2 separate regions of the Homo sapiens genome follow, and region 1 is linked to region 2. A link means that fine-mapping ties the variant in region 2 to the expression of a gene that starts in the linked region. Tissue or cell type: whole blood. Region 2 holds a variant in brackets; the other region holds the start of a gene. Each region is shown on its reference strand, or each on the opposite one. Region 1 holds the start of H4C4 (H4 clustered histone 4). Region 2 overlaps NPAT (nuclear protein, coactivator of histone transcription).

Region 1 (5,251 bases), not on the chromosome of region 2:
TATTTACTTATTTATTTATTGAGATGGAGTCTCACTCTGTCGCCCAGGCTGGAGTGCAGTGGTGCAATCTTGGCTCACTGCAACCTCTGCCTTCCGGGTTCAAGTGATTCTTGTGCCTCAGCCTCCCATGTAGCTGGGATTACAAGAGCATGCCACCATGCCCAGCTAATGTTTGTATTTTTAGTAGTGTCAGGGTTTCTCCATGTTACCCAGGCTGCTCTTGAACTGGGCTCAAGTGATCCACCAGCCTTGGCTTCCCAAAGTGCTAGGATTACAGGCGTGAGCCACCGCACCCGGCCAGAATAATATTTATTTATTTATTTATTTTTGAGATGGAATTTCACTCGTCACCCAGGCTGGATTACAGTGACTTAATCTTGTCTCACTATAACTTCTGCCTCCCAGGTTCAAGCAATTCTCTTGCCTCAGTCTCCCAAGTAGCTGGGATTACAGGTATGCACCACCATTCCCAGCTAATTTTTGTATTTTTAGTAGAGACGCGGTTTCACCACGTTGCCAGGCTGGTCTCGACCTCTTGACCTCAGGTGATCCACCCACCTCGGCCTCCCAAAGTGCTGGGATGACAGGCATGAGCCACCATGCCCCGCGCAGAATAGTGGTTTTAAATGCATTAGATAATATATAGGAATGCAAAGTGAAACAATTATATTAGTATGCCATTATCAAATTATAAAAAATCTAAATTGGTGAAATATTAACATATGTGCTTTTAAATTTTTTATTTTATTTACTTACTGATTTTGAGACAGAGTCTCACTGTTGCCCAGGCTGGAGTGCAATGGTACGATCTTGGCTCAGTGCATCCTCTGCTTCTCAGGTTCAAGCGATTAGCTACCCAAGTAGCTGTGCGCCACCATGCCTGATAAATTTTTGCATTTTTAGTAGAGACATGGTTTTGCCATGTTGGCTAGACTGGTCTGGAACTCCTGGCCTCAAGTGATCCTCCCATCTGGGCCTTTCAAAGAGCTGGGAGTTACAGGCATAAGCCATGGCCTGGCATATGTCCTTTTTAAATTAATACATTAAATAATAATCTACCCATATGACTAAGACTTATTATAGTTTTGAAGGATTGAGGTTTTTTTTTGTTTTTTTGTTTTTTTTTTGAGATGGAGTCTTGCTGTTTTGCCCAGGCTGGAGTGCAGTGGCACGATCTCTGCTCACTGCAAGTTCCACCTCCCAGGTTCACGCCATTCTCCTGTCTCAACCTCCTGAGTAGCTGGGACTACAGGTGCCCGCCACCATGTCCGGCTAATTTTTTTGTATTTTTAGTAGAGATGGGGTTTCACTGTGTTAGCCAGGATTGTCTCCATCTCCTGACCTCGTGATCCTCCCGCCTTTGCCTCCCAAAGTGCTGGGATTACAGGCGTGAGCCACTGCACCCGGCTTTAGGATTGAGATTTTTAAATGAAATTTCGAGATATTGGCAATGAGAATGTGATATAAATAGAAGCACTTGTCCTGCCAATTACACTGTTTGTTGCCTGAGTTCATACACAGAAAAAATGCTGTTTCTGTTGGAGAATAGTAAAAAGAAAAAAAAAAGATTTGACTTTTTTTTTTTCTATACTCATTCCCAGATCCCCTGAAGACTTTCTATGTATCCCAGGCTAAGAACCTTACTCTGCAATCTTTTCCATGTACCATAAACTCAATAAACAGCAAACAGCTGTGATAAACTTGGTTCTTCTCACAAGTCATGAAGGAAAAGCCAAATATTCCACCCAAAGGACCTGGAACTTTTTATGGGGATTAATGATGAGTTAAGTTTTTAATTATTTATTATTTTGAGGAGTTCTCGAAATCAGATTTTAGCAAATTAGAATACTGTCTCTCATCCCTTTAGAAGGGTGAACCTTAAGGATAGGAATTGAAAACACCCACAATATTGTACTATACCATAATTAATGTTTAGTCATTGCTTATTTGGAATCTAGACACTATTCTAAGCATTTTGATAGGATTATCTGTTTCAACTTAACAAATACTTACAAGTTAGATTTTTAAAAATACATTTACAACAAGGAAACTTAGTATAGCTTGCCCAGGGTCACCCCCACAGCATGTATGTCAAGCAGGCTGTCTCTATGATAGTTTGGAGGGATACTATGATGCCAATTTGCTGGAGTAATAGAATATGGTGAATGATGCAGTGCTAGCTACAATCTGTCCATGATTAAAGGCACAATCAAAGCATAAATTTTCATAAATTTCAGCCCAACAAGGTTTTCTTTTACGGGTGTACATAGTCATGTTTTCAATCGGCCCTCGGTGATCTTATCCTAATTTGACCTCTAAATGTGTAACTTTCATATACTTTTAGTTCCCTCAGTAGCACTATCTAGCCTGCATGCCAAAGAGCCCTGCTTGGTTAACTAGGAATGCATAAATCAATAAAAATAATCTCAGAGACAATAAAGATATGAGTTACTTAAAATACTTTGAAAGCACCTTATGGCCCGGCGCGGTGGCTCACGCCTGTAATCCTAGCACTTTGGGAGGCCGAGGCAGGTGGATCACAAGGTCAGGAGTTCGAGACCATCCTGGCCTATGGTGAAACCCCGTCTCTACTAAAAAAATACCAAAATTAGCTGGGCATGGTGGCGGGCGCCTGTAACCCCAGCTACTCGGGAGGCTGAGGCAGGAGAATTGCTTGAATCCGGGAGGCAGAGGATGCAGTGAGCCTAGATCGTGCCACTGCATTCCAGCCTGGGCAACAGAGCAAGAACCCGTCTCAAAAAAAAAAAAAAAAAAAAAAAAAAAAAGCACCCTGTGAGGGAAACAGTACTAATTATTTGATATTCTGGGAAAAGTGGGGGACAATTGTCAGGCTTCTTTGTCGAAAGTTTATGAACTGATGGCTCAGTTAATGGCTGCAAGTATAGTGTGTGTGTATATATATATATATACCTAGCAGTATTTATTAAATCCCAGCTGAGGCTCTTTTGTTGCCTCAGGCCCCTCTTGGTCTCCTCCAGTCTGAGCAAGGGAGAATTGCACAGAAGGGCGGGAACTGACTGTGGTTCCCGCCCCTTCTCATGAGGTTTTCAAACAGGTCCGTCATGCTATTATAAAAGTGCTGCGTGGCTCTGCCAGACGTATTGCGTTACAGATTTAACAGCTGTGGTTTCAAGATGTCTGGCCGCGGTAAGGGCGGAAAGGGTCTAGGTAAGGGTGGCGCCAAGCGTCACCGTAAGGTATTGCGTGACAATATCCAAGGAATCACCAAGCCCGCTATCCGCCGCCTGGCTCGCCGCGGCGGCGTCAAGCGTATTTCTGGCCTCATTTATGAGGAAACTCGCGGAGTGCTGAAAGTTTTCCTGGAAAATGTAATCCGCGATGCTGTCACCTACACGGAACACGCCAAACGCAAGACAGTCACAGCCATGGACGTGGTGTACGCGCTCAAGCGCCAGGGACGCACTCTTTATGGCTTCGGCGGCTGAGCTTACCTCTACAGTACACTACCGCAAAACCAACGGCCCTTTTCAGGGCCACCTATCCACTCAGGAGAAAGAGTAGTAGTCACTGCTAAAAGTGTAGTTTCACGTGTTTAGTAGCTCCGGTTTTCAAGTTAAATGGTCTTATTACGCCTTGGCTTCATATCTTACTGGCCGGTGAGGATAGTGTATTAAAGTTTATTTTCACTCTTGCTGTGTCGCCCATGCTGGAGTAATCAATGGCGCGATCTCGGCAATCTGCAGTCTCCGCCTCCCGGGTTCAAACGATTCTTGTGCCTCAGCCTCTTGCGTAGCTGGGGCAACCGGCTTGCGCCACCAACACCCGGCTAATCTTTGTATTTTTTGCAGCGATGGGTTTTCGCCATGTTTCCCAGGCTGGTCTTGAACTCAAGCTCAAAAGAGATTTCCCTCCTCCGCCTCCGAAAGTGCTGGGATTACAGGCGTGAGCCACCACGCTTGGCCTGTGTTTTCTGTATTTCTGTAAGGAAACATGGCAAACTGCTGCTAACATTCTTCATGGCTATCAGAGAAACAAGGTAGCAAAGACTGTAGCTGCTGGAGAAACAAGGTAGCAAAACCTGTATCTCAGAAGGCAAGTGGTAAAGGCTGATGCTGCCGTGAAGAATAGTGAAAAAAATGGAGGTAGTTACTAGTTCCTACCAAGGCATTGTTATATGAAAGGAAGACAAAATGGCATTCAGATGGTTATTGGTGTGGGGGGATGGGAGGTGTGTTGGAGGCACTTGACTGGCAAATACATTCTTTAAAGAAGAAAGTAGTAATTACCGTGGGAGAAACAACCATGAAAGTACATAAGATTCAACATTTTTTAGTGGAATGGGGAGAGGCCAACTTGTTTGGTTCTGTTCCTCTGAGCTGCCTTCCATCCAGATCTACTGATTTTCTATTGTTGAATTTAAAAGGACTTTTTATTTATGTACCCGTGGCCAATTTAAAGGTATGTTGAACGAGTTCTTTTTTTGTTGTCCTTTTATCTTAAATAGTCTTAGACTTTATTATTAACAGAAGTCATTTTACCTTAAATCATAGATCAGGTTACTGTGGTTGCATGAATGGGTGTTTAAAACCGAGGTTGTCATGATTAAATTCCCACCTTCTTTCCCTTTACACCTCAGGAAATGAGACAAAAATAAGTAAGCCATTCCCTAGTGGGTTACTCCAGTCCTTACAATCGCAGGACTATCAGTATGCCACTGTATTATTCGCTGTCCTCAAAATGGATTTTAATTTGTGGAGAATATTGAGTAAACCCTTATTTTTCCAATAAAGTTTTTTCACTTTATCATAATAAAAAGAAAGCTGGACAGGTGGCTATCTAGCAAGAGACAACATTTCCTGGTCTTTCTGGGAGCAGATGTAAGCATGTGGCTACATTATTTCCAACACAGGTGAGACACATAGAAAAGTTACTACCAGGTCTGGGCTTTGAAACTTCCATGTTACCTTCTTCCCCAAGTATAATGGTATTGATTTCATTTTGAGCAATTAGAGAACATCAGGCCCTAGGAGATGACAGAACATTGACTTGGAAGGAACGAAATTTCCTGATTGATCACAAGGAGCAGAGCTGCTTCACAAAGCTGGACTAATCACAATGGATTTGTTCCATGAAACAAAAATATCTGTCTTTAAGCTTATTTATTGTTGAGTCTCTTTGTAAGCAGCATAACTTTATCACACAAAATTCAGTTTTGTTACTAAACTTATTTAGTATTGTGGAATGTCCTTCCATTGACCTGAAAGCTCTT
Region 2 (5,251 bases):
TCATCACATAGTTGTATAAAACCCAATGTTGTGGGGGAGTTTTTAAAAATAGCTCTTATAGTCATGGTCTTCAGGGAATTCATCATCTTTTTGGAGAAATTTTCAAGAAAAACTTGAATTTCAGCCGGTTATGGTGGCTCACGCCTGTAATCCCAGCACTTTGGGAGGCCGAGGTGGGCCGATCGATCACCTGAGGTCAGGAGTTTGAGACCAGCCTCGAGAACATGGTGAAACCTCATTTCTACTAAAAATACAAAAAAATGAGCCAGGCATGGTGGCAGGTGCCTGTAATTACAGCTACTTGGGAGGCTGAGGCAGGAGAATCTCGTGAACCCAGGAGACAGAGGTTTCAGTGAGCCAAGATCATGCCATTGCACTTCAGCCTGGGCAACAAGAGCGAGACTCTGTCTCAAAAAAAAAAAAAAACTTGAATTTCTTCCTTTATAAAATCCTTTCTAATTGATCTCTGTCTTTAAAATCCTTTGTTTATGGCTGGGCTCAGTGGCTCATGACTGTAATCCCAGCACTTTGGGAGGCCGAGGCGGGCAGATCACCCGAGGTCAGGAGTTCAAGACCAGCCTGGCCAACATGGTGAAACCCCGTATCTACTAAAAATACAAAAATTGGCATGGTGGTGGGCACCTGTAATCCCAGCTGCTTGGGAGGCTGAGACAGAAGAATCTAAAGCTGGGAGGCAGAGGTTGCAGTGAGCCAAGATCGCACCACTGCACTTCAGCCTGGGTGACAGAGTAAGACTCTGTCTCCAAAAAAAAAAAAAAAAAAAAAAATCCTTTTTTCATAGGGGCTCTTGTGGCATTTATTGCGTGCTGTGTTATATGTAGTTAGTGATTGATATGCCTATCATATTGATAATTTTTTATTGTATGTTCCTCAGAGATAGTGCTCATGGCACATTTATTTACATTTCCTTATGTGTTGGTTCCCAAGCTTCCCTCTTTTCCCTTTTTGTTACATTATAGACATACAATAAAATTTCATTAAATATCAACAATTAGTATTAAACCTAATGGGTCTGTTTTACGTGCTGTTACAAATTACATAAAGGAGAGGTCAGAATTAATAGAGAATGTGGGGCTTGAGCTAAAGCTTAAAGAATGAAGGTAGGATTTGGAGTTAAAGCAAGGAAGTTTTTATAACTTATAAAATCTGTAAGTTATAAAGAGAAGCAGCACCAGCATAGACAGAGAGACCGTAGTAGGTTGCATGAAAATGAGGGGATCAACCTGACAGTAGTGTATTAGGCAAAAGTTTGTTTATGGACAGGACTAAATTACAGTAGCCACAAACTATGTTGTTGACTTCTGAGGACCATGTAGACATTGTAATTTTCCCTCCATAGTTTTGACCAGTTACGTGCTTACCTTACCCCCTTTTGATCAATACCATTGAGATATGTAATAGGTTGGGGTTACAAGTGTAGTCCTGGGTATAAATATTCAGTTGGGGTTGTAATTTTCTGGTGTAAGGTTCAGACTTGAAACATTCACCACTCATTTTCTAACTAGTTTCATTATTTCTAGAGGAATCCAGATATGATTGTAATATGATGTCTTGGCTGTAGAGTCTTATGCTTGATCAGCATGGTTCACTGACTGAATAACATTAAGACCACCTTAATATTTGGATTGACTTTTTCTTAATTTGTTAGCCTTGCTGTTTTTCCTAAAACTGTTTCAGTTTCGTTTTTTTTGTTTTGTTTTGTTTTGTTTTTGGAGAGTGGATCGTAAGGAAGAGGGATTGTTCATAGAATTTATTTCAAAGCAGTAATTAATTTGTGCCAAACATTTGTTTGTTTTGTGCCAAAACATTTCAGAGAAAATCTTTTTTTAACAAGAATTGTTTTTTTAGGATCTGCCATAATAATTGCCTCTCCAGTCCAGCCTGTACTCCAAGGAATGGTAGGGATGATCCCAGTATCTGTGGTTGGACAGAATGGAAATAACTTTTCTACTCCTCCTCGGCAGGTAAGATTTATGAACTGAAAATGGTGTGGTGATGCTTTTCAAGCTTAGTGTAATTAATGGCTTTTTCTCTTCCAGGTTCTTCATATGCCTTTGACAGCACCTGTATGCAATAGAAGTATCCCTCAATTCCCCGTCCCTCCAAAATCTCAGAAGGCTCAGGGACTAAGAAA[C/A]AAGCCTTGTATAGGTACCATTTTTAATTTCATTAATGTTAACTTTATGTTTGTATGTTCATTTGTTTGCAGCAACACCTAAATGTTTTCTTTCTGAATACCTAAACCATTTTAAAACAAGTGATCACCCTACATTTGCTAGTAACAGATGTCATAATGCAGCCAACTGTTACTGAACAGCTTTGGTTCTGAGAAAATTGTCTCCTTTGTTGAATCTGTTAGCTTTTGCCCAGTAGTCCTTGGTTTGTTCTTTGCAGCTTCCCTAAATTAAGTATAGTCCCTATTTTTCCCAACAGCTTTCAAGTGTTTAATGAATGCCTCGTATAATTGTATGAGACTTTAGAGCAGTTCTTCTTGTAGTTTAGTGTGTATATGAACTATTTGGGGATTTTGTTAAATGCAGGTACTGAATTGATAGGTCTGGTACAGCACCTGAAATTCCTCATTTCTAACAGCTTCTAAGCAATGCCAGTGCTGCTGGTACTGGACCACACTTGAAGCAAGGCTTTAAAGTTTGCAAATTACCTTCCTGTGTTCCCTGTTTTAGCCATTGTCCCAACCATCTGTTTACTTGTGAAAAACCTGGTAGTCACTCTTAAAACACATTTTCCTCTCCTTCTTAGTTCAAGTATTTGTCATTTTTCATCTAAGTTGTATCAATAGTGTCATGTAGTCTCCCTTCTTTTAGTCTCTGTTGTTTCAGTTCACCTCATATCTGCTGGCTGAGTGACTTTTTTTCCCTAAAATACAAATCTGAATATGTTGCTTTCCTGCCTAAAAACTTTCAGCAACTCCCCTTTGCCCAAAGGATAAAATTGAAATTTCTCAGGGTGACATATGTGCATACATTTGTCATCTAGTCACTCTCGACCTCTCCATCTCATCTCTTACCACTTCCCAGCATGGACCCTTTGTACAAACTATAGTTGCTGCTCACCTTATACTTGGTGATCTTTCTTGTCCCTGTACCTTTTACCAATGCTATCTCTTCTACCTAGAATTCCCCCTTCTTACCCAACTCTTACCCTCAATCTGGTTCTTATTTATCCTTCGAAATTAACTTAAATGTTCCTAGGAAGCATTTTTAACCAGCGGTGGCTGAGGTGGATATTCCGGTTTTATTTTTTTCTTTAATTCTTAGTGATACCTATGCTACAGCACTTAACACATTACATTGTATTTCTTCTCAGTAGTCTGAGTATCTTAAATGCACTCATTATACAGAGAACTCAACTAACTGCTATCAAATCAGCCTTTCCTTAAACTAAACAGTATACATCTATTGATGTAGGCTTAAGTTGCATTTTGACTTATTGAGGCACCCTCTTAGACTTATGTCCTGTTATAGCTACTCTATATTATTTTTATGTTCTTTCTTATAACTAGTTCATTCCTTTTAATGGCCATTTGATATCTATCACTTGCATAAATGTATTTTATATATGTCCTATCAGTGGACTTTTCAGATGTTTTCGATGTGACATGCAATGATATGAGGAACATCTTTGTAAATGCCTCTGTGTGAACCCATATGAGAGTTTCTTTGGGGGCTTATTCCCAGAAATCTTTGGGTATACTGGGTATAATAGAGAAGAAGTATATCTTCTCTATGACCCAGAATTTCTGAGTCATAGAGAAGAAAATTTATACTTCTACCATTATTTTCCCTGCTTCCCTCACAACACTACCAATATTTGATACCATGTGATATTTTAACTTTTGCCACTATGATGGATTTAAAGTGGTAGTATCTCATATCATTCTTTTACTTTATTCTGATTACTAATAAAGTTTGGAATCTTCTCTTATAACTATAAATAATATTTTCCCTTCTGTGAATTGCTTATTCATATCCTTTTCCTACTTCTCTATTAAATTTCCTGTCTGTTGAGGTGTTATACTTTTATTAGTAACATATCACAGATGTCTTCACAGTCTGACACTTGTTTTTATCCCTTACAAAGTTGATACCAGAAAAAAACATTGGTGAGGTTAAGCATCCATTTATGATAAAAGCTCTTAAAGGCTATCTATAGTAAACATCATGGGTTCCCTTTAAAGCTGTGAATAACACAAAGATACTCATTCCCACCCTGTATGTAATAAGCCAGTGTTTCCAACACCAGTAAATTAATTATTAAGTAATCAGTTTTTTGCCCCACTGACATCTGATTATACTTCCACCATAAACAAGGTCCCATACATCCATACATATGTGGTTCCAGACAATACAGTAAGAAAATGGAGCTGGGCATGGTGGCTCATCCCCATAATCCCAGCACCTTGGGAGGCTGAGGCAGGAGGATTGTTTGAGTCTAGGAGTTTGAGACCAGCCTGGGCAATATAGTGAGACCACATCTCTAGAAAATAAATTTTTTAAAAGTAGCCAGCTGTGGTGGCAGATAGTAGTCCCAACTATTCGGGAGGGTGAGGCAGAAGGATTGCTTAAGTCCAGGAGGTTGAGGCTGTAAGTAAGCCATGATCATGCCACTGCATTCCAGTCTGGGCAACAGTGAGACCCTGTCTCAGAAAAGAAAAGAGATAGGTGTAAAGATTTGAAGAGAGGGAATTAAACTGTTATGGAAAATGATGTGATTTTTACACAATAAAGCCACAGGGAGTTAATAGAAAAATTAATAGAACTAATAATTCAGTAAAGTTGCCAGGTATGGTTAATTAAAATTGTGTTTTAGGTGCCAACAATAAACACCTATTAAGTGTTATACAAAATAAGATACTGTTTATAATGACCACAAAAATGATAAAGTATAAAGGAAGTAACCTAACCAAAAATGTTAGAAATGGAGAATATTTGAAATCTTTCATAAAGGATGTATAAATAGAAGAGAACCATGTTCATAGATTTGAAAATTTAACAGTGTAAAGATTGCAATTATTCCAAGTTGAATCAAAAATTCAATGTAATTTTCCTTAAAAATCCCAGTAGAATATTTTGGGAGATGGGAAAAACTATAAAATCTATGAGAAAGAATAAAAGTCCATGACTAGCCAAGATAGAAGAGCAGAGGACAGACTCATTCTACCAAATGGTAAAATATTGCAGAGCCACAGTAATTAAAACAAAAAGACAAATGG

Evidence for each region. PIP is the estimated chance that this variant, and not a neighbour inherited with it, causes the effect.
Region 1: H4C4 starts here. The variant in region 2 is fine-mapped to the expression of H4C4 in whole blood (TOPMed, PIP above 0.99).

The regions. Positions count from the first base shown.
Region 1 is chr6:26,186,981-26,192,231 of GRCh38, reverse strand. H4C4 (H4 clustered histone 4) reads left to right here and starts at 3,120. Exons shown (of 1, transcript NM_003539.4): 1 at 3,120-3,522. The coding sequence starts at 3,156. The coding sequence ends at 3,467. RefSeq lists enhancers at 2,932-3,111, 3,894-4,519.
Region 2 is chr11:108,166,662-108,171,912 of GRCh38, reverse strand. NPAT (nuclear protein, coactivator of histone transcription) reads left to right here. Exons shown (of 18, transcript NM_002519.3): 14 at 1,870-1,985; 15 at 2,061-2,169. Among named protein-coding and RNA genes, the nearest start is that of ACAT1, 48 kb to the right of the region's middle. The variant C/A (reference allele first, on the strand shown) is at 2,156.